5 separate regions of the Homo sapiens genome follow, and all the other regions are reported to be linked to region 1. The links are microRNA targets in miRTarBase. Many come from high-throughput screens and were not tested one by one. Region 1 holds a microRNA gene; each other region holds the end of a gene's coding sequence.
The links. Region 1 holds the annotated microRNA hsa-miR-3150b-3p (UGAGGAGAUCGUCGAGGUUGG, at 1,048-1,068, shown strand). A microRNA usually pairs through its seed, bases 2 to 8, with sites in the 3' UTR of a target mRNA and lowers its output. Matches are read on the target gene's strand: a 7mer-m8 pairs with bases 2 to 8, a 7mer-A1 pairs with bases 2 to 7 and ends in A, and an 8mer does both.

Region 1 (4,118 bases):
ATAAGCACAATGCCATTATCATGCCTTAAAAAATTAACTATGGTTTCTTATATCAAATATCAAGTCAGGTTCAAATTTCCACTAAAGTTTTAAGTTTCCATTAAAAGCAGTTGATTTGAATCAGGATTCAAATTAGGACATCAGGTTGGGATTGGTTGGCAGGTTTTAAAGTCTCTTTTACTCTTTGGGTTTCTCCCCTACCCTCTGGAGAGAGCTCCCCACACCGTGGCTTTGCTGACTGCATTCCTTGGGTGGACTTTCACTTGTGCCTCTGTCCTCGACATGTCCTGTAAGCTGGAAGCCGGGATCAGATTCAGATCCATTTTTATTTTAAGTGTTATGCAAAAAGACACCCAGTGAAGGTGTTAGAATGAGCCATGGCAGTGGATGGGGTTCGCAGGACCCCTGCGGAAGGGGGACGTTTAAGGGGCAAGCGGAAAAGGAGACACCTGGAATGGGGGAGGAGGAGCAGCGGGGCGAGGCGGGGGCGGTGCCGCGTGGTCTGCGAGCCCGGATATTCCCTGGGGAGCGCACCTGCGACTTCACCTCCAGTCCCTCCCCGGCTGGGGCAGCGGGGCGCGGGCGCTCGGGAGAGGTGGCGCTGCCTACTCGGCCTCATCTTGCTGAGAATGCGACGGGGCGACAGCTTCCTGTCTTTTCCAGTGGCTTTTGGCATCCCCAGAGGAAAAAACGGGGAGACCCGCTTTGGCCTCAGGAAGCGCAGAAACACTGTCCTGGCTGCGCGCGCAAGGGCGAGAACCTAGGGGACCCGCCTAAAGCGCCGTTGGGGCTGAGCACCGAACTCGCACAGCTCCGGGCAGCGACCCGCGATGCGGCATCCTTCCGTCCGGTCGGAGCCCTCCTAGCCCTCAGCGCGTCTATTCCTAGCTTCGGTCCCCGCAGCCATATAAGCAATGACACCCTCGCCGACTCGCCTGCCAGCTTGGCCGCCTCCCTGCAGAGGGCTGACGCTTCTCCAGAAGTTGTAAGAAAAGGAGGGAAAGCAGGCCAACCTCGAGGATCTCCCCAGCCTTGGCGTTCAGGTGCTGAGGAGATCGTCGAGGTTGGCCTGCTTCCCCTCACTCCTCGGGCCTTGCTCTTCCCCCAGGTGCCCACTGCCCTCCCTGCTGTGTACCACTTTCTTGCTGCCTGTGAAGGTATTTGTCCTCACTCTTGTGCTGCTCCTTCAATGATAGAACTTTGGGACTTTCTCATCCAGCAGCACCAGCCTGAAAAAGCAGTGGCTTGCACCACCACACACATACCTGGTCTCAGGTGGGTGGATCAGGGCAACTTGGCCACTAGTGCCCCAGTAATGCCCATCTGCCCAACCTCAATGCAGGAGCAACAAGTATTTCTCTGTCTTGGAGAGATCTAGAAAAAGGCTGAACATACCACGAGGGTGTTGCTTCAGAAGAAAATGCTGGTCAGGGTTCCAAGCCATCATAGGAACTTGTGAGCTGAGAAACATGGTCAACTCTACTCTCTCTCTCTTCTCTACCTACCCAGGCAGCCACAAATCTCAGTGTCAGTCACTGCTTTGGTTTGACATCTAAGGGCTCTGTTACAAGGGTAACTAAGATGAGTACCAGTAGATGCCCAATGACACTTGTAAACATGAAAGTGTATACCAGTATAAAGGATGCTGCAGCCTCAGCCTTGAAAAGTAAGGCTTTTAGGGAATGAAACAAAGGATAGTCAGGTTCTTAGGGGACAGGGAGGGTTCTGGCATGGGGAGCAGCCCTGGGCAGGTCTGGGGGTGCTGCGAAGTAGGGCACCGCAACATAACGGCCCTGTGTCTTAGGTGGCCAGGAAGGGGAAGGCAGGAGATACAGAAGGAAAGGAAACTAACATTTTATTGAGACAGGCATTGTGCTGGTCCTGAGGTTTATGCGAAGATTAATTTCTGGGGGTGAGAAGGTAAAAAATGATGAGGTGGAAACCAGCATCTTCTGTTACTCCCATCTGTGCAGAGTTAAAGAAGACTTGAAAGAAGGGGATGTGAGTGGCAGGAAAATCCCCAGTGACCGGCCCTGAACCTTCTGCCAGCGCAGCTCACCTCCTCCCCAAATGCCTCCCAATAGGATCTCAGCCCTAAACAAGCACAGGGCGTGGGGTGGTACAGATGATGATGTAGCTGCTTCTGAGATGCCCCTGGGCGCTGCTGGAGCTGAGCCCTGGGACTGGAATGACTTTTGCCCGCTGCCCTCAAAATTCCCACAGGCCACACCGCTACCACCTCTTGGGTAAAGTAGGAGGGACACATCTCCACCACCATCCAAATTGTTACCTAATGAGGAATTTTGCCAGGAACTACTTACAGCCCAATGGAGCCAGGCTGGGTATTTCCAGGACATGAGCCATTTTCTCTGTGCCCACTAAACAGGGTGCAGGTCCCTGAAGCCCTCAGGGAAGCTGCAAAGGTTACTGGGGTCGGCTCTGGGGCAACAGCTGACCTCTTAGCTCCCACTGCAGGCGTAGGAACCTCCAGGACAGCCTGTGGGGGTGGTGAGTCTGCAAAGCTGGCTGGCTAATGAGGGTGCAGTGCTGGTAGTGTCTGCCTTATGCTTTTTTTTTTTTTTTTTTTTCTTTTGGAGACGGAGTCTCGCTCTATCGCCCAGGCTGGAGTGCAGTGGTGAGATCTCGGCTCACTGCAAACTCCACCTCCCAGGTTCACGCCATTCTCCTGCCTCAGCCTCCCGAGTAGCTGGGACTACAGGCGCCCGCCACAATGCCCGGCTAATTTTTTTTTTTTTTGTATTTTTAGTAGAGACGGGTTTTCACCGTGTTAGCCAGGATGGTCTTGATTTCCTGACCTCGTGATCCGCCCACCTCAGCCTCCCAAAGTGCTGGGATTACAGGCTTGAGCCACCGCGCCCGGCCGGTTGCCTTATGCTTTAATATTAATCATATGGTATGAACACATGCAAAGCTAGCTGGTTTTACTGTTTAGGAAAGTAGATTTAATTTCTATGTGATCTGGATTATCACCATTATTATTTCCTTGGTATAGAAATTGCTTTTTACTGCTTGTGTTTTTCTAAAATTATATTCTCCCTCTGACCAAGGCAAGTAATAAAGGGCAGATGACTCGGGGAGGGGAGGGGAATAGGAAAAAAATCATGGGAGATATGCTTCAAAACCAATAGAGAGTTTTTCTGTTTTTAATTTCAGTTGAATTGCAAAGCAAAGACCCATAGAAGTGAACTGTGATACCAGAAATTCTCTGCCCAGCTTGAAGTTGTTGATATATTATAATCCTTATGTGTGACGTTAATGGTTTTAGTATATATTATCTGCCATCTAGCCTGTTTATTTCAAATATAGCTTCTGAATTCATGGATTTTTATGTGATTTTTGTTTTGTTTTATGTATATCTTTTTAATTTCATAATCCAAAGTGGAAAGAAACTCAACACTCATTTTTAGAAGCTCATTCTCTGAAGTTAGAAGAAGTAAAAATGTGTTTACTTTCTTAAATTTGTTTGATAACCTGAAATCTTAAAGCATCCAAGATGGAAAATATCAAATTTCAAAGCTTAATGTTAGCAATATTCCAAAAGATAAAATCTAGTGACCTGGTTTTCTCTGAAAGTGACACAGTATGTATATAAATAGATTAAAATGGCAAACACATATGTACACTTAGTAAGTGCCAGCCACTATTTTCGGCACTTTACAATTATTAACTAACTTAACCTTCATGATAATTCTAGGAAGTAGGCACTATCACTAGGCCATTTTACAGATGAGAAAATGAAGGCACGGAGAGGTTAAATGTAATAACTTGCTAGTGGTCAATCAGTAGGCAGTAGAGGAGCCAGCATATAAACCCAAGCTGCCCAGCTGCAGAACCACATTCTTGTCCCATATGCTATGCCTCTCAAAAAAGGAGGCCCTCTCCTTGGGACACAAAGGTAATAAAAATGCCTGCCCTGAGCTGTGTCTCTGTCTAGGTACACAGTTCATGAGTGAAGGAGCTCCTGGAGTCATGAATAATGGAAGTCCAGATTGGTCAAGTAACTTGTCCCAGCCCCAGCCTATGCATCTGGTATGTGGCTGGACAGGTTTCTAACTCATTATGTAACATCAAGAACATTTTAAACTGCTTTGAGACAT
Region 2 (4,111 bases), not on the chromosome of region 1:
ATATTTTCAATTGAAGGTAGTTTTTCCACATGCACATCTATGCTCATTAGCAAAGGATGTAGTGCACCTCCCTGACTACTTTAGGATTTCCTTTTCAGATTTTATGGAACTTGTTAACCTCTGGAATGCCTAAGTTTAAATAAAAATATTGTTTTGAGTTTATATTGAGCTATATATTTTATCTGTATAATCTATTATATATGTATTGCATAGAGTTTATATTGAGCTGTATATAATAGCCAATATTTGGGGCTCTATGCTTGGAACATTTTAAGAAAAATATTCTATTTTGATTATATGGTCCAGGAATTAATCTATTTTTATTTTTCATTGCAGATGGAGTCGGGTGGTACAGTTTTGAGTACCAACTGGTCTGATGTAGGTAAAAGGAAAGTTGAAATCAATCCTCCTGATGATATGGAATGGAAAAAGTACTAAATAAATTAATTTGCTCTCATCGTATTGTGTATATTCACCTAATGCCCATTGTGTATTGATATTGCATTCTTGAATTTTGAACACTGAATATCTTTTTGAAAGATTATACTTCTTTACCTCTTTGTGCTTTAGAAATTATTTTCCTTCAAGTGTTCAAGTCTAATGAAGAATGAAGATAACATTTTATCACTTCTGTCCTTAAAGGTTTCAGACATGGTGAAACTGAATAAAGCATGTCATTTGCTCCTAGATAGATTCATTCTATCTAGTTGTGGGGATGGAGAAATCTTTAATGGTATATTTTCGGTTATTGCCTTATTTTTGATACAGTATTCTGTCAGTAATTTATTAGACCTGGCAGCTTTGGGTGAGCTTAGATTTTTCACCTTCAGTGTTACATTGTGTTTGCTTTTAAAAACTGCTTTTGAATGGAGTTGTAAATACAATTTTTCTATGAAGATGTTTGGTTTATTTACCTTTTTCTTAAGTTTTTAATGAGAACTTTGAGAAATTATCACAGGGAATTCCCATGTAGTTCTTTTAATGGGAAGAATTTGTAAATTTAATTGCACTGAGATATTTTGGTCGTTACCTTGCAAGTTTCTGTATAAAACATAGATACCTGAGTTTTAACACACTGCAAGTTTATACTAAGGATAATCTGTGAAGGTAGGGCAAAGAAGGTTCTAGGAAAGCCCAACTCCACTTGCTTCTTTTATCACGACAGGATTCTTGAAATTACAGCATTGGTGGGTTTTTTGGTATTTTTTTTCTTTATTAGAAAATCTCTGTTGTCACGTCCCCATGATTACTTTGGTTTCATTGGTTTATGGTAACTGCTGTGAGAGTAAATTAATGTGTATATGTTTAGTATTTACTCTGTGCCTAGAATATATAGATATCATGAGAATACAAAAAATTAAAGACATGATTATTAACTTCAAAGAGCTTATAAATGTAGCAGGGAAAAAAAATAACATTCATGAAGGAACTGTGGAAAGATTGAATGCTGAACTCGGTATAAATACACTTTAGAGACAGGAAAATGTTCTGTGATTAAAATTGTTTACAGTCTAGGCTGTTATAAAGTATAGACTATGGATGACCTGTAGATCTGACTTTGTTTTCTCACCATGATTTTCTCAACTGTAATACCCCAGATGTTGGTCTCAGCTCTGTTAGGTGTCACTAACATTTTTATGGCAAAGCACTACTCTATACCCTCAGAGCAGGGGGAGTGGGAGGCAAACGGGTCATCATTTCAGCCTCCAAAACAGTAGGAATTCAGCTCCTTCCTTCTCGTCCTTTGTTGTGGGGTGTAGGGGAGTTACTAAGGAAAGTTTCAGTAAGGTGATACCAGATGGTGCCCAAACCTGTTGTTATAGCTTGTTTAAGCATTCTAGAGTTTTCACTTGTCCTTCTGTCCACTTAGAGCTACTAGATACATTTTTTTCTTCTTGAACACTGAAGGAAAAGGCAAAATTAAGTTTTGGTTGGATGGATTTCTAAAGTTTTCTTCTTAGGAAAATAGGATAGTGACTTTTGTATTCTGTATGTTAAATTTTCTCAGTACCATTAATCCTAAGATGAAGAGGAAGGCTATTGCTGCAGAGGCATAGTTGAGGACGTATAGCACTATACCAGAGACAAGAATGCTTAGCTCTAGCAAGTCTTCTGTCATTGACTACCTTCATAATCTTCAGCAGGTTTAGGCCTTTCTTAGTTCCTTTGTAAATAATCCATAGAGTCTTAGAGTTATAATTAAAGGTCCATGGTTCTAAATACAGAAGCATATTTTTGCCGCTTAACTTTTTCTTTCTTAAAGATGACACTATTAAAATAGCTGTTTCTGACCAGGTGCAGTAGCTCATGCTTGTAATCCCAGCATTTTGGGAGGCGGAGGTGGGCAGATCACCTGAGGTCAGGAGTTCAAGACCAGCCTGGCCAACATGGTGAAACCCTGTGTCTACTAAAAATGCAAAAATTAGCTGGGTGTAGTGGCATGCACCTGTAGTCCCAGCTACTTGGGAGGCTCAGGCAGGGAGAATTGCTTGAACCGGGAGGCAGGGGGTGCAGTGAGCCAAGATCATGCCACTGCACTCCAGCCTGGGCGACTCCATCTCAAAAAAAATAAATAGCTGTTTAAAAAAAAAAAATCTGGTACTATCTTTAGTTGGTTTTAAAGGATATATTATCTAGAATATGCTTACCCATTGGCTAGATTTGCTAAGTGTTGTGGGATTTGGGATTTTGCTGGTCTGAAGGGAGTTTGTAAAACACATGACTGAAAGCATTATAAAACATACCTTGTCAAATACATTAGATTCATTATAGGTCAAGGGAATTTTGAAAAGTAGGCTAGATTGCTGCCTAAGAATCCCACTCTAAAGTACTGCTTTGTTTAATCATTCTAGATAATGGAAGCTTGTAAGCCTCCAGAAAGTTAAAACAAAAAACTTCTTTCTGATTAAGAGCCTCTTAACTCTATCCTTATCCTCTGCTATCTCAATGTAGCTATTAATTGTTCCCTCTTTGTTTCTAGACTCCAATTTTCATTTCTCAAATTTTGGTTCTCAGTGCTGTTAGTATTAGTAGCCTTTTGTTTCTTCAGAATGTATGTATTTTTCCTCTTAAATGTTTCCTTTCCCTTTTAAGGTTAGTCCTGGAATACATGTTTTTCTTGGTCTTGTAGACTTCATCTCTTCTGATTTCCATAATAATTTGCACCTTGATGAATCCAGAATTCTCCCACTGTCTTCAAAGAATCTTGAATAGAATAATCTGCTTTTTGAACTCTGCTATCTAGTAATCTCTTTAGATATCTATACCACAAGTTTGAAACATCAAGGTCAATTTTGATAATTTCCTGTCTTATGTCTTAATACCCATTCAGAGTTGACTGCCAACTAACAAGCTCAGCCTTTAGCACTGGCACTTACTGGCCAATCTGTTTTCTGTCTATAGGGAGTGAAATGGAATGGAGAAAGAGGATGGCTTGCATTAATAACTCTAGTTTTTAAAAACATTTTTATTCCTTTTTTAAAAATTTGTTTAGAGACACGGTCTTCTTCTATCACCTAGGCTGGAGTGCAGTGGTGCGATCATGGCTCACTGTAGCCTCCAACTCCTAGGCTCAAGTAATCCTCTTTCCTCGGCTTCCCAAAGTGCTGGGATTACAGGTGTGAGTCACTGTGCCTGGCCCACATTTTCATTCTTGGCTCACTGTAGCCTTAATCTTTCAGGCTCAAATGATTCTCCCATCTCAGCCTCCCAAGTAGCTGGGACCACAGGCATGCATCACCACGACTGGCTAATTTTTGTATTTTTTTTGTAGAACCGGGTTTCACCATGTGCCCAGGCTGGTCTTGAACTTCTGGGCTCAAGTTATCTACCTGCCTCAGCCTACCCAAAGTGCTGGGATTACAGGAGTGAGCCACCATGCCCAGTTATGAACTTCAAGTAAATATTTAAAATGGAGATACATCACAATGCTATTATGAATAATTTAGATAGAAATTTTAATTTAGTTCAGTACTTAAATATTTTTTGGCTCTTCTTTCCCACTTTACCTTTCTCTATTCCTTCCTCAGTTATCTACATATCAGATTAGATTATTGATATCTGAGATATATCACTGACCCAGAGCAAAATTGCATATTAGTTTACCATCTAA
Region 3 (4,118 bases), not on the chromosome of region 1:
ATTAGCTAGGCATAGCGGTGCATGCCTGTGGTCATAGCTACTTGGGAGGCTGAGGTGGGAGGATCGCTTGAGCCTGGGAGTTCAAGGCTGCAGTGAGCCATGATGGCACCACTGCATTCCAGCTTTGATCCTGTCTCAAAAATACCAAAAACAAAAAACATCTCAGCTGGAGTTCTGAAAGCAGAGACTGGGACAAAGGCTTGTGTGCAGGCAATTTACTGGGAAAGTGACCACAGAGAGCAGGGCCAAGTGGCAGAGGGTGCAAAACACATCAGACAGACAAGCACGTGGGCTGAGTCCACCACCATCGTGGCAACCGCAGTTCAATCCCATGAGACCTTCTGAGGAGCTCATGGAATGCAGTGCAGAACTGTCTCCTCCGGGCTGAAAGAAGGATGTGTATATCCACTGATACCTCTCCCAGGTTGGGCTCCAGGCTGGTCCTGTGGGTGTTAACCCCTCTCCTTCCAGAGTGTACTATAAGAGGCACCTATGTGGATGTGGTTAAATTTGCATGAACTGTTTGGGGCATCAGTGGCTGGAGTAAGAGGTGAACAGAGAGGCTCTGAAGTGGTTGAAACAGACGTTCAGTCAAAATATTCACCCTTACTGAGTGCAATGCACTGACATATTCTATTCTAGTTCATCACACACACACTAGTGGAGGCCCACTAACCAGTGGTTCTCAAAGTCCGGGGGTCCCAAGACCATATTTCAGGGGGCCTATGAGGTCAAAACTATTTTCCTAATACTGCTGAGATGTTTTGTCTTTTTCATCCTCGTTCTCTCATGACTATGCAGCGGAGCTTTCCAGAGGCTTCGTGACAGGCGCTAATGTCACAGACTGAATGCACAAGCAGATATGAGAAACGGCTGTGTTCCATGAAGCCAGACATTAAAGAGACTTGGAGAAATGTAAAACAATTCTACTTGTCTCACTGAATTTTTTTGTTTTAGAAAATAGTTATTTCTCATGAATATGTTTATGTTAAATTTGTCCTTTTAGAATCAGCTTAGTATTACTACAATGATTTGGGTGAAATGTTTCTGTAACAGAAATTTTGTTTCTCATTATGTGATGAGTTAATTTTATATCTAAAAGGTAACGTATTATTTATAAACAAATATTTAAAAATTTTCTATTTTAATTTTTAAATATATCTACATACACAAAAGGTCTTTGGGGCTCTCACTCTTTACAAGAATAAAGGGGTCCTAAGATCTTAAGAAAAGATAGAGAATTGCTACACTAAACTGATCATGACCCTCAAAAACACTGCTGCCCATAGTTTGCAAAACATTGGTGTTCCTTTCATGACCTGTAAGGACAGAGTGGTTGGAAACCAGAATGAAAAGTTAATTTGAGGCTTAATGTGCAATAGAACACTAGAGTCCATGAAGGTTCTATCCTGACCTATTTCAAACCCGTCTCAGGCCCATCACCTGTCCGAGGGGAAGACAAGGGAATACTGCTGACATGAGCAAGAGTCTCACAGATGGGAGGGAACCGCTCGGATAACTGCTGGCTTTCTCTTCCAAAGCTTACAGCTACTGCCCTGCTTGACCAAAACTCAGTTAAGTCTAATCATGTAAGGGAGTCCAATCATGTAAGGGAGTCCAATCATGTAAGGGAGTCCAATCATGTAAGGGAGTCCAATCATGTAAGGGAGTCATTCTCGACCCTGGCTGCATATTGGAAGCATCTGGAAGATGTTAAAAAATTACCCCTGCCTGTGCTCTACTCCAGACCAATGAATCAACATTTTCTGGAGGTAGGCATAGGCACTGTTTTTTTTTCCCCTTTTTATTGAGGTGTAACTTGCATCAGAAGCAGAAATCTTAATAACTTAATGATTTTTTAAAAACATGTATTACCTCCATGTAACCATAACCACCACCCAGATCAAGATGTAGGGCATTTTCAATTCACCAGCAGGCTCCTTCATGCCTCCTCCTAGATAATACTCTTCTCCAAAGGTAACCATTATTCTAATATTTGCCACCATAGATTAGTTTTTCCTGATTTTGAACTTCAAATAAAGGGAACCACGCAGTAGTTTACTCTTTTGTGTCTGGCTTTTTTTGCCCAATGTTATGGCCATATTAATTCATATTATTAGGTAGAGAAGTAATGCATTCTTGTTTGCATGGCTGTGTAGTGTTCAATTGTAGAAACAGACCATGATTTATTTATCATTCTATACTTGGTGGAGTTCGCTGGTTCCCTTACACTGCTTTTTTTTGTTTCTTTTTTTTTTGAGACGGTTGCCAAGGTAACCGTCTCGCTCTGTTGCTAAGGCTGGAGTGCAGTGGCATGATCTCGGCTCACTGCAATCTCTGCCTCCCAGGCTCAAGCAATTCTCCTGCCTCAGCCTCCCGAGTAGCTGGGATTACAGACGCCTGCCACCACGCCTGACTAATTTTTGTATTTTTAGTAGATATGAGGTTTTGCCATGTTGGCCAGGCTGGTCTCCAACTCCTGACCTCAGGTGATCCAGCTGCCTCAACCTCCCAAAGTGCTGGGATTACAGGCATGAACCACCACATCCAGTCCCCTTATACTGCTCTTAAGTGTGGTGACATGCTCTCACCATAAAATAACAGGAACTGGGACAAACTAGGGAACAGGAAAAGCAGATTCATGTTATCCATCTCATGCTTACTGGGTAAGGATATGGTTATTGTCCCCTTCCCAGCTCCTCCTCTGAATCTATTCTTCATTCACCAATCAGGATGACTTTTAAAAACAGAAATCAGGCCATGTCATTCCTTTCCTTCAAGACTCCCAACAGCTTGATCCTAAAGTGCCTCAAACTCATCACACTTACACTTAAATCCACACTTCCTACACCAGCCTACAAAGCCCTTCACAATCTGGGCCCGGTCTCTCCAGGCTCACCTGGGACCACATTCTCTCTTGTTTGGTATGCTCTATGCCCAATGCCAGTCTTCTCTCTGTTCTTAGGACAAACCAAGTTCCTTCCCACCTTATGGTCTTTGCCTCACCTGCTTTATACTTAGATCCCAACAGCCTCTCTCTGAGAGGCCTTCCTTGACCACCCAATGTGAACTAGTCATCCCTTTGCATTCTAGAATACATTATCTTAATTCTTTGCATAGCACTCATCAAATTATATTTCCTTGTTTATTTGCTTAGTTGCCTCACCCTGCTTCTAAAACTATAAGCTCTTTGAGAGAGAATCTTACCATTACTTCATCCTCAGTGCCTAGAAAAATACCTGGTACACAGTGAGTACTCAACAAATATTTGTGTCTTAGACATGAATCTGATGGCACAAGTACTAACTGTACCCTTCCCAAAAACTAAGGGTTTGAATTCTGGGCCCCTCAGGACAAACAGGAGGAAGGACATCATTGCCCTTTGCAAATTACAATATAAATGCCTCTCTGGAGGAACTTCTTGATTATACTGACATTGATTTTTTTTTTTAAGTCTGCTATATGGGAATGCAATATTGTATTTATTCTATTCATTAACAATACTTGAACATTTACAATATTCATTGAACATAATCTAAGAGAAGGTCAACTTACATTTTTTACTTCTCTATTAATAAGAGAGATGGTCAAATTAATTTATGGTCAAAATTATAATGGCAAAAACTTATAAATAAATACGTGCTTGGTGTTACTATGGTTACACACAGTTCAGTTTTTGGTGTAAAGTTCTTTGGCTGCAAGAAAGAACATTTGGTTTACTTCACTAATAGAAATATCTCTTAAGGCTGGAATGGCCTCCTCTTGGTATTTCTTCTGCTGTTGATTTTTTGCATAGTTATCTGTAAGAAAAGACCAAAAAGCTCTGTTTACCTAAGCAATTTCTTCTACAGTCTCTGTGTCTGATGGAGACCCACCACATAGTTTACTAGGCTGACGTTTGGATAGTGACAAACATCATGTTTAACATAATTAGATGATTACTTAAATCCTCTCTTTAGAAGAAATGTCCCAATTAAAATAAAAACATCCCTGTCTCTACTAAAAACACAAACACACAAAATTAGCCTGGTGAGGTGGCGGGCGCCTGTAGTCCCACCTACTCGGGAGGCTGAGGCAGGAGAACAGCGTGAACCCAGGGGGCGGAGCCTGCAGTGAGC
Region 4 (4,102 bases), not on the chromosome of region 1:
GCTTCGAAAGCTTGAGTCACTGCCCAGGGTCATCTAGCAGGAAAGTACATGAGCTGGGGCGACCTCTAAAGCCCAGCCCTTTATGCGACACCTGGGCCTGGTGCCCTCATCCTACCTGGGCCCCGCCTGGCCCCTCAGCCTTGTGCCCACCGCAGGTGCCTGATGGCTTCATCTCCCATTTCTACTCCGTATCGGAGCATGTGAGCCCTGTCCTAGCCTTCGGCTTCCTTGGACCCAAGCCTCAGCTTGCTGAAGTCTGTGCTTTCTTCAAGGTAAACAGAGAGCAGTTCTCGTTCTTTCCTGACCCTTGCCCTGAGCACAGGCGCCCTGGGAGGTGCCAGGAATGGGATGAGGGCCTGGGCCTGGGCCTGCTCCCAGAGAGAGGGCAGAGCCAGACCCACATGGGTCCAGAGGAAGCAGTGGGAGGGAGGAGCCTGGGGATGGAAAGGACCGGCTGGGGCTCTGGTGGTGGACAAGGGGACTTCAGGTAACCTGGGGGGCATCATGGTGGGCAGTGGCTGGGCCAGGCCTGACACCAGCCCTGCTCCCCCAGCACCAGATTGTGCAGTACCTGAGGGACATGTTCGACCTGGACAATGTGCGCTACACGTCACTGCCCGCGCTGGCAGACGACATCCTGCAGCTGTCCCGGCGCCGCAGCGAGATATTGCTGGGGTACCTGGGGGTGCCCGCGGCCAGCAGCGCAGGCGTGAATGGGGCGCTGCCCCGAGAGAATGGGCCCCTGGGGGAGCTGCAGTAGAGGCGGCACGGGCTGGGGGGTGGCAGAGAGAAGGCTCCTCCTCCCTTCCCTGGGTTGGTATCTGACAGCTGTGGTGGCTGAGGGCCGTTGCCCCTGACTTTGCCCCACCCCCATCATCTGGGAGTCCCCAAGGCCCAGAGGGGACATTTCCATGGAGAAGAACGGTTCCTGGGGGAAGCAGAGGCCAGGACCAGTGGGGCCTGTGGGAGAGAAAGGCTGTGAGAGAGGGGGTTGTTGTGGAGAATTGGGACAGGCAGAGCCAGGATGCCCCAGGTGGGGGACCCCAAAACCTCCCATCGCTCCAGGGCTGCTGACAAGGGTGCTGGGAGGGTGGAGGTGAAGGATGGGGCCTAGAGCCCTGTGGTGAAGGTCACAGTGTCCTGAGCTAGAAGCCACCTGTGGCTATATGGTCTCAGCATCCAGCTGGCCTGTCCTGATGCCCTCCCCACCTCAACCGCCTTCTCAGAGAGTTTGCAACTCCAGAGAAGGAGAGTGGGGCCACCTTAGTGGGCAGCAGGCCTGGGCCATCCAGAGATGGGGCAGAGGTGGGCCTCCCACTCCTGTGCTCTCTTCTGAGCAGGAACTGGGCCCTTGACAGTGTCCTTTGACATTCCCTCGCCCTACCAAAGATCGTCTTTTCTCCTCCCACCTCTGTCACCACCAAAGACGGGCGGAGGTGGGGCTGGGCCCTCCTGCCCCCGCCCATCCCCCTTCCATGAGCCCAGACCTCCCTGGGTGGTGCTAGGCTCTGAGCTGGGGGCTCAGACCAGGGATCGCTCAGGCCCCTGTCACCTGTGGGCCCGGGGACCACTTGGGGGAGGTCAGAGGATGTATGTGGCCGGACCAGCTTCCCCACCTTCATTAGGACAAGAAACTGCCCAGCACTTTGCCTTCAGTTCAACGCACAAACGCTCCTGGGGCCTCATGGGGGCAGAGCCTCCCCTGGGCCTGCAGAGAGTCCTGTTAGCAGCGACGTCCCCCCGCCGCGGGGTCCTGTCAGCCCGGCAGTGTCTTCTCAGTGTCTTCACCTGAGCGAGTGTCTGTGGCCCCAACGCGTTCTGCTGTGGCTCTGCCCTTTCCAGGTTGAGAGGCCTGCAGGAGAAACACACTCCCCTCCTGGGTTTCCACACTCAGGAGGTCAGAGGACTGGCTCCTGTGACCAGGGCCCCTCTCCCCTGAATGGGAAAGGGGTCTGGGGATGGGAGGGCGCACCACAGAGAGGAGATGATGCTGGGTGTGGCCCATCTTCTGTGGGCCCCTTCCCAGACACCGGATCCATGGGCACTAACCCGCCTCCCAGGCTGATGCCCGGAGGCAGCTTCCTGGGCAGGAGGGTTCCATGGGCACTAACCCACCTCCCAGGCTGATGCCTGGAGGCAGCCTCCAGGGCAGGAAGGACCCTGTGCTCCCCGCCCCCCATCCTGACATCCTGTTCTTTTGCACTTACCCTGTGCTGTGAATGTAACAGTGGGCCTTGGCCCCGCCCACTCTGATTTGCATTTTCATTTGTGTTTGTTTACACATCCATGCACTGCCTGTAGCAGTCGATTGTCACAGCTTCGACTTTTGGATGGTAGAGTGTGTGCACTGACTGTGAGTCGAATAAACAATTGAGACGATTTCCTTCCACTTTGCCATGTTGTTGGTTATGTGCATGGCTGTTTGCTTCTTGGGGCAGAGCAGGGCACCTGCTTTTTGGGGTGCCGTGGGTGAAGGTTCCAGGAGGACAAAGGTCAGGAGAAGCCTGGTGGGGGCTGTGATCCTACTTGGGGCAACTTGACTGCCTGACAGGATCCAGCCATCCCTAGGCAGGGAGGGCCCCGGTGGTCCGCGGGGAAGGGTGGGGAGCGGCCAGTGCCACGCTCAAGGCCATGGATGCAAGGTGGGCAGCCTGGCTGTGGACCCTGCTCAGGCACCATCTTAGGGAAGTCGATTCTCACTGGCCCTCAGTTTCCACATCTGTAAAATGCAGGCACTGGACCGGGCCAAGATGCAGACTCACAGGCTTAAAGGTTGTTACCCCCCAAGCTGTGAGAGCCAGGGGGAGGGGCTGGAACACTGGGAACAGGTCCAAGCCTGCCGGATCGTTACAAGTTTTCATGGGCAGCTGGAAATCACAAGTTTTATTTTACAGGTTTTTAAAAAAGAAACTTTAAAAAAAAATTTCAAATGTATGGAAAAATTGAAAAAACTATATAAAACCAACACTTCTGGTCATGTAATTAACATTTTGACTTTTTTTTTTTTTTCTTGAGACAGAGTCTCGATCTGTCACTCAGGCTGGAGTGCAGTGGCACGATCTCAGCTCACTGCAAGCTCTGCCTCCCAGGTTCACGCCATTCTCCTGCCTCAGCCTCCCGAGTAGCTGGGATTACAGGCACATGCCACCATGCCCAGCTAATTTTTTTGTATTTTTAGTAGAGACGAGGTTTTACCGTGTTAGCCAGGATGGTCTCGATCTCCTGACCTCGTGATCCGCCCGCCTCAGCCTCCCAAAGTGCTGGGATTACAGGCGTGAGCCACCGCTCCCGGCAACATTTTGCCATGTTTATTTCATGTATTTCCAAAATACTTTAGCCTAAGTTTCAGACATGTACTTTACTCTTAAACCTTTAAGCAGAGCTTAAAAACAAGGTAGTCACATTCTTGTAAGTGGGAGTTGAATGATGAGAACACATGGACACACTGCAGGGAACAACACACACTGGGGCCTGTCGGAGGGCAGGGTGTGGGAGAAGGGAGAGCATCAGGAAGAACAGCTAGTGGATGCTGGGCTTAATACCTAGATGATAGGACTGCTGGACACAGTGGCTCACGCCTGTAATCCCAGCACTTTGGGAGGCCGAGGCAGGTGGATCACTTGAGGCCAGGAGTTTGCAACCAGCCTGGCCAACATGGTGAAACCCGTCTCTACTAAAAATACAAAAACTTGGCCAGGCATGGTGGCGGGTGCCTGTAGTCTCAGCTGCTTGGGAGGCTGAGGGACGAGAAGTGCTTGAACCCGGTGGGCAGAGGTTGCAGTGAGCTGAGATCACACCACTTCACTCCATCCTGAGTGACAGAGCGAAACTCCATCTCGAAAAAAAAAAGAGAAAAAAAAACCTAGGCGACAGGATGATGTGTGCAGCAAACCACTGTGGCACATATTTACCTATGTAACAAACCTGCACATCCTGCACATGCACCCCTGAACTTAAAAAACAAAAAAACAAGGTCATTCTCCAGAATAACCACAATACCATGATCACACCTAAAAAAAAAAAAAATTCTCGGGGCCAGGCACGGTGGCTCATGCTTGTAATCCCAGCAGTTTGGGAGGCCGAGGTGGGTGGATCACCTGAG
Region 5 (4,118 bases), not on the chromosome of region 1:
AATTAACTGGGTTTGGTATGGCACACGCCTGTAATCCCAGCTACTCGGGAGGCTGAGGCAGGAGAATTGCTTGAACCTAAGGCAGAGGCTGCAGTGAGCCGAGATCTTGCCACTGCACTCCATCCTGGGTGACAGAATGAGACCCTGTCTCAAAAAATAAATAAAATAAAATAAAATAAGCATTGACTATGAGCGAACATCACAGTTCTGGATGCAGCAGCCTTGGGGGCTAAGCTTGGGCCCAAGTGGAGAAGCAGGCATTGGATCTGCACTGCCTGGGTCTGGGTGGTGCAAATGACCCTCCTCTGGGTCTCAGCACTGTACAGAGGATGGGAGAGATTTGGGCCACCACACTGCAGATGTGAAAGATGATCTCCAGACTGTCTCCTTGTTTCTTCATATCTGGGCCCAGAATTCCAGGAAAAGCTGTAGGGTCTCACTCCCACCCCAAATTTGTTCTTTTGAGGGCCTGAATTCGTACAAAGTTCTTTGCTGAATCTTTGCAATCTTTGTCTGAAGAATGAATTTGTTCCCTGAGGAGGCCCATCTAGAACAGAAAGGTCTAAGGACACCAAATGGCTCTGTGTCTGCTGGACCACATGTGCCCAACCCCAGCAGGAGAGGCATCCCCCCACTCCTTCCTCCATGAGCTGGAGAGTCATCTACTGCATGCATCCACACTCACCAACAACTTGTCACCACAATCTGATCTCCCAGGTAGAATGTCTACATGGAGAGAATGTGTGAATGAATGGACAAGAGCATCTTGACCTTGGCCTGTTATTTCTCACTGTGAATGAGTTCATGAACATTTTGGTCCCTGTGAGCCTGGTCAGTAAGAGTCTGCCACAGAGAGATGGGTCCACTCTAGATGTGTTGACAAAGCAGATTTCCAGACCTCAAATGCTGAGTGCGACCTACCAGAGAGAACCTGAGTTCCCCAGGGGAAAAGCTTGGGGATAAAAACAATGGACCCAAGAGCCAGTCTGGAAGGATTCAAATTCTGCTTCTGTCGCTTCTTGTGTACTCCTGGGCAAGTTTCTTAACCTCCCTGTGCCTCTGTGTTCTTTTCTGGAAAGTGGTAATATTAAATAAAGTACACACCACATAGGGTCATTATGAGCACTAAGTGGCCTACTGAGTGTAAAGATCTAGAATAATGCCTAGCAATGGTTAGTCATCAAAAATGATAGCAGTTATCAGTACAGCCAGTGGGGCCCTATTTCTCCAGATGACACAGACCCCAGAATAATGGTTTTCTCTGGCATTTTCTTCAGTGGATGTGAGGACAGGGTAAACTAAGAGTCTGAACAGTCATCCCCACCACTTTCAACACAGACATCTGTGTAAAAGGGCAGAGCCTGGGCAGTGGCACACTTCAACAACTGGCTCCCCAAGGTGGGGGGAAACCCTAATTGGTAGTCTCTGCCAGTTTCCAGAGTTCTATGGCCACTGTGCCTATTTCAACTGACTCACAAAACTCCTGAAAATTTTGTACCACTGGACCTAGAATCTCAGCTTATCTATAGCGAGTATAGAAAAACTTGCCTTGGGATGGAGAGATGGAGGGAAAGTAAAGAAGGGGGTCATGCTGTCTTGGCAGTAAACCAGGCCTCCTCTGGACTAAGCAGCAGTTCTTGAGTGTGGCCCATGGACCATCTGCCATGTTTGGGGTGTTTGCAAAACTAAGCTCCTGGGCTTTGCACTGGATCTATTAAAGTGGAATCCTGGGCCGGGCGTGGTGGCTCCTGCCTGTAATCCCAGCACTTTGGGAGGCTGAGGTGGGTGGATCACAAGGACATGAGATCGAGACCATCCTGGCTAACACGGTGAAACCCCGTCTCCAGTAAAAATACAAATAAAAATTAGCCAGGCATGGTGGCGTGTGCCTGTAGTCCCACCTACTCAGGAGGCTGAGGCAGGAGAATGGTGTGAACCCAGGAGGCAGAGATTGCAGTGAGCCAAGATTGCGCTACTGCACTCCAGCCTGGCCAATAGAGTAAGACTCTGTCTCAAAAAAAAAAAAAAAAAAAAAAGTGGAATCCTGGAAGTGGGGCCAGGAATCATCTTTAAACAAGCTTCCCAGGTGATCCTGACATTTGAGAACTGCTAGATTAGGGATCTCTGACCTGTCCGAGAAGTCAGAATAGCCCACAAGACAACGTGAATTTTACAGAATCTTTTCACACTGTGGTCCATTACCAACAGGGAAGAGTCAGAAGCCCAGGCCCTGAGAGCACAAGGGCATGGTTATAGATGAGTAAGGTGACCATGGACTAGTCAACTCTGTTCTCTCTCGGGTCCATCCTTGTTTGGGGTAAATGGTGAGGTCAGTGTGGGAAGGTCCTGCCCTGTGCAGAGCACAGCTCTCTGTAGGGGCTTTGCAGAGCTACTGGGTGGGAATGGACCTGCAGTGAGGGTGGGAGGCCTGGAGTTTTTGTCCTTGGAGGAAGGTGAGCCAGGCCTCTCCGAGGAGGGGAGAAAACCCTGGACACAACCTTCCAGGGCTCCAAACTATCTGTGAGCATCCTGGACTCTGTGGCTCTAACAACTTAAATAATTTTTATTACAAAAGGAAGAAAAGACCAAAACATCCCCAAAATTCTCCCATGGGCTTCCCCCTCCACTCCAATAAATAAGGTATGGGAGACTGACCGGCGGAGGGGGTGGGGATCATGGTTCAGCAGAAGGGGGAGCTTAGCCGGGGGGGTGGCAAGCACATCCAACCCACCTCCCCCAGTCCCCGGCACTACGGTCACATTGGCCAGAACACAGAACTCTGCCCACAGACAGCAACAGTCTCTGGATGTGTCTTGAGGAGTGTGGCCGGGGAGGAATGTCATACCTCAGAATGGCCGGGATGGCTGCCCCACCCCTGTGGCCTTCCCAGTTCTGGACAGCATCGGGTCCAGCCAGATCCATGCTGGCTCCCAGGGAATTTAGCAGCATCAACTGAGGCGCAAGCCCACCCAAAGGGGCCTAAGATGGATGGAATGGGCCCTCCCCAATGGGGGAGGCAGAGTATGAAAACTCGTAGTGAGAGCAGGCTGAGTTGGGAGTCGCCGTGCCAGCCTCAAGGTCTCTAGGAGAGAGGGGTCAACAACCATCCCCTCGCCAGCTCAGCTTGCAGCTCTATGACTACACCACGACGGGGGTGGGGGACGCTGGTGTTGCCCAGTCAAGTCTCAATGGTGTATCTTCATGGCAGAGGAGATGGCAGGAGCCAGTGTCCCCCAGCTCAGGTCCCTTCCAGGGCCAGCTCCCTCCTGGCTGAGAGGCTTCTGGACCCAGTACAGCAGTTCCAGGAGGGCAGCGGTGGAGTCCTTTCAGCTCCCTGCCCCGGACATGCCCAGTGGGTGGAAGCTGCCCTCTTCTAGCAGGAGACGCCCCAGGCGGTAGAGCAGCTGGGGGTACCAATGCACACCCTCCCCCGGAGTCCAGCTGCCCCATGCCAAGCTGTGAAAGAGTCTCAGGGGCCAGAAGGCCAACTGAGCCAGGTGGTGGTCAGCCACGGCCGCGAAGCAGGATGCCACCACATCCTCCACCACCAGTGTCCCATGCTTTGTGAGCGGGGCGTAGGCCCCGAGGGCCACGTGTGTAGAGACAGCTGCCACGCGGGCAGGCTGCAGGCCTGGCACCCCAGCCACCAGCACGTACTGGCCAGGCTGCACGTGGCTGGCAAATGTGGCCCGGAAGCGGGCTGCCGGCTCCGTGTGATTGTCAGCCGTAAAGAGCAGGTGAGCGGGTGTGAGTGCCAGGCGGCGTGGGGGGTCCTGAGTCTCGATGACCTGGAAGGCTCTCAGCCTGTGAGGCTCGCGGTCCAGGAAAATGAGCACATCGCTGAAGGTGGGGCTCCCATCCTCCCCCATGGCCAGCACACGGTCTCCCGGCCTCACGGCTGACAAGGCCACACGCGCCCCACTCTCCAGGCGTACCTGGGCTCCGGCAGGGAAGCAGCCGCCCGTCTTGGCTGCGGCCGAGTGCTCTGTGGGAGAAAGGGACATGAAGGTGTTACTGCTGTGCAGCTCAGCCTCCTGGTCACAACGACCCTCCCTTGGCCACCCCAGCCAGCCAGAGCTCCTCTTGCTCCCAGAGAGCCCCCGTCACCATATCCCAGC

Region 2: the mRNA of SUGT1 is a reported target of hsa-miR-3150b-3p. The part of its 3' UTR that is shown has no 7-base or 8-base seed match.
Region 3: the mRNA of PIGP is a reported target of hsa-miR-3150b-3p. The part of its 3' UTR that is shown has no 7-base or 8-base seed match.
Region 4: miRTarBase lists MIGA2 as a target of hsa-miR-3150b-3p. Seed matches in the 3' UTR shown: 7mer-m8 at 1,399-1,405.
Region 5: miRTarBase lists IHH as a target of hsa-miR-3150b-3p. Seed matches in the 3' UTR shown: 7mer-m8 at 3,208-3,214 and 7mer-A1 at 2,815-2,821.

The regions. Positions count from the first base shown.
Region 1 is chr8:95,069,874-95,073,991 of GRCh38, reverse strand. MIR3150B (microRNA 3150b) reads left to right here and starts at 996; the gene lies at 996-1,081. MIR3150BHG (MIR3150B host gene) reads left to right here and starts at 810. Exons shown (of 2, transcript NR_132986.1): 1 at 810-1,063. It overlaps MIR3150A (microRNA 3150a), which reads right to left and starts at 1,078; the gene lies at 999-1,078. LOC124901980 (a long non-coding RNA gene) reads left to right here and starts at 1,739. Exons shown (of 2, transcript XR_007061013.1): 1 at 1,739-2,246; 2 at 3,175-3,343. It also overlaps a transcript of NDUFAF6 not described here. RefSeq lists a silencer at 504-603.
Region 2 is chr13:52,687,398-52,691,508 of GRCh38, forward strand. SUGT1 (SGT1 assembly cochaperone of MIS12 kinetochore complex) reads left to right here. Exons shown (of 13, transcript NM_006704.5): 13 at 337-4,111. The coding sequence ends at 438. Among named protein-coding and RNA genes, the nearest start is that of SUGT1, 37 kb to the left of the region's middle.
Region 3 is chr21:37,061,913-37,066,030 of GRCh38, forward strand. It overlaps PIGP (phosphatidylinositol glycan anchor biosynthesis class P), which reads right to left. Exons shown (of 5, transcript NM_153682.3): 5 at 3,462-3,800. The coding sequence ends at 3,670. Among named protein-coding and RNA genes, the nearest start is that of PIGP, 9.1 kb to the right of the region's middle.
Region 4 is chr9:129,069,694-129,073,795 of GRCh38, forward strand. It overlaps MIGA2 (mitoguardin 2), which reads left to right. Exons shown (of 16, transcript NM_001329990.2): 15 at 156-272; 16 at 554-2,389. The coding sequence ends at 760. Among named protein-coding and RNA genes, the nearest start is that of DOLPP1, 9.4 kb to the right of the region's middle. RefSeq lists enhancers at 64-203, 1,151-2,100, 2,101-3,050.
Region 5 is chr2:219,051,881-219,055,998 of GRCh38, forward strand. It overlaps IHH (Indian hedgehog signaling molecule), which reads right to left. Exons shown (of 3, transcript NM_002181.4): 3 at 2,544-3,985. The coding sequence ends at 3,327. Among named protein-coding and RNA genes, the nearest start is that of MIR3131, 4.8 kb to the right of the region's middle.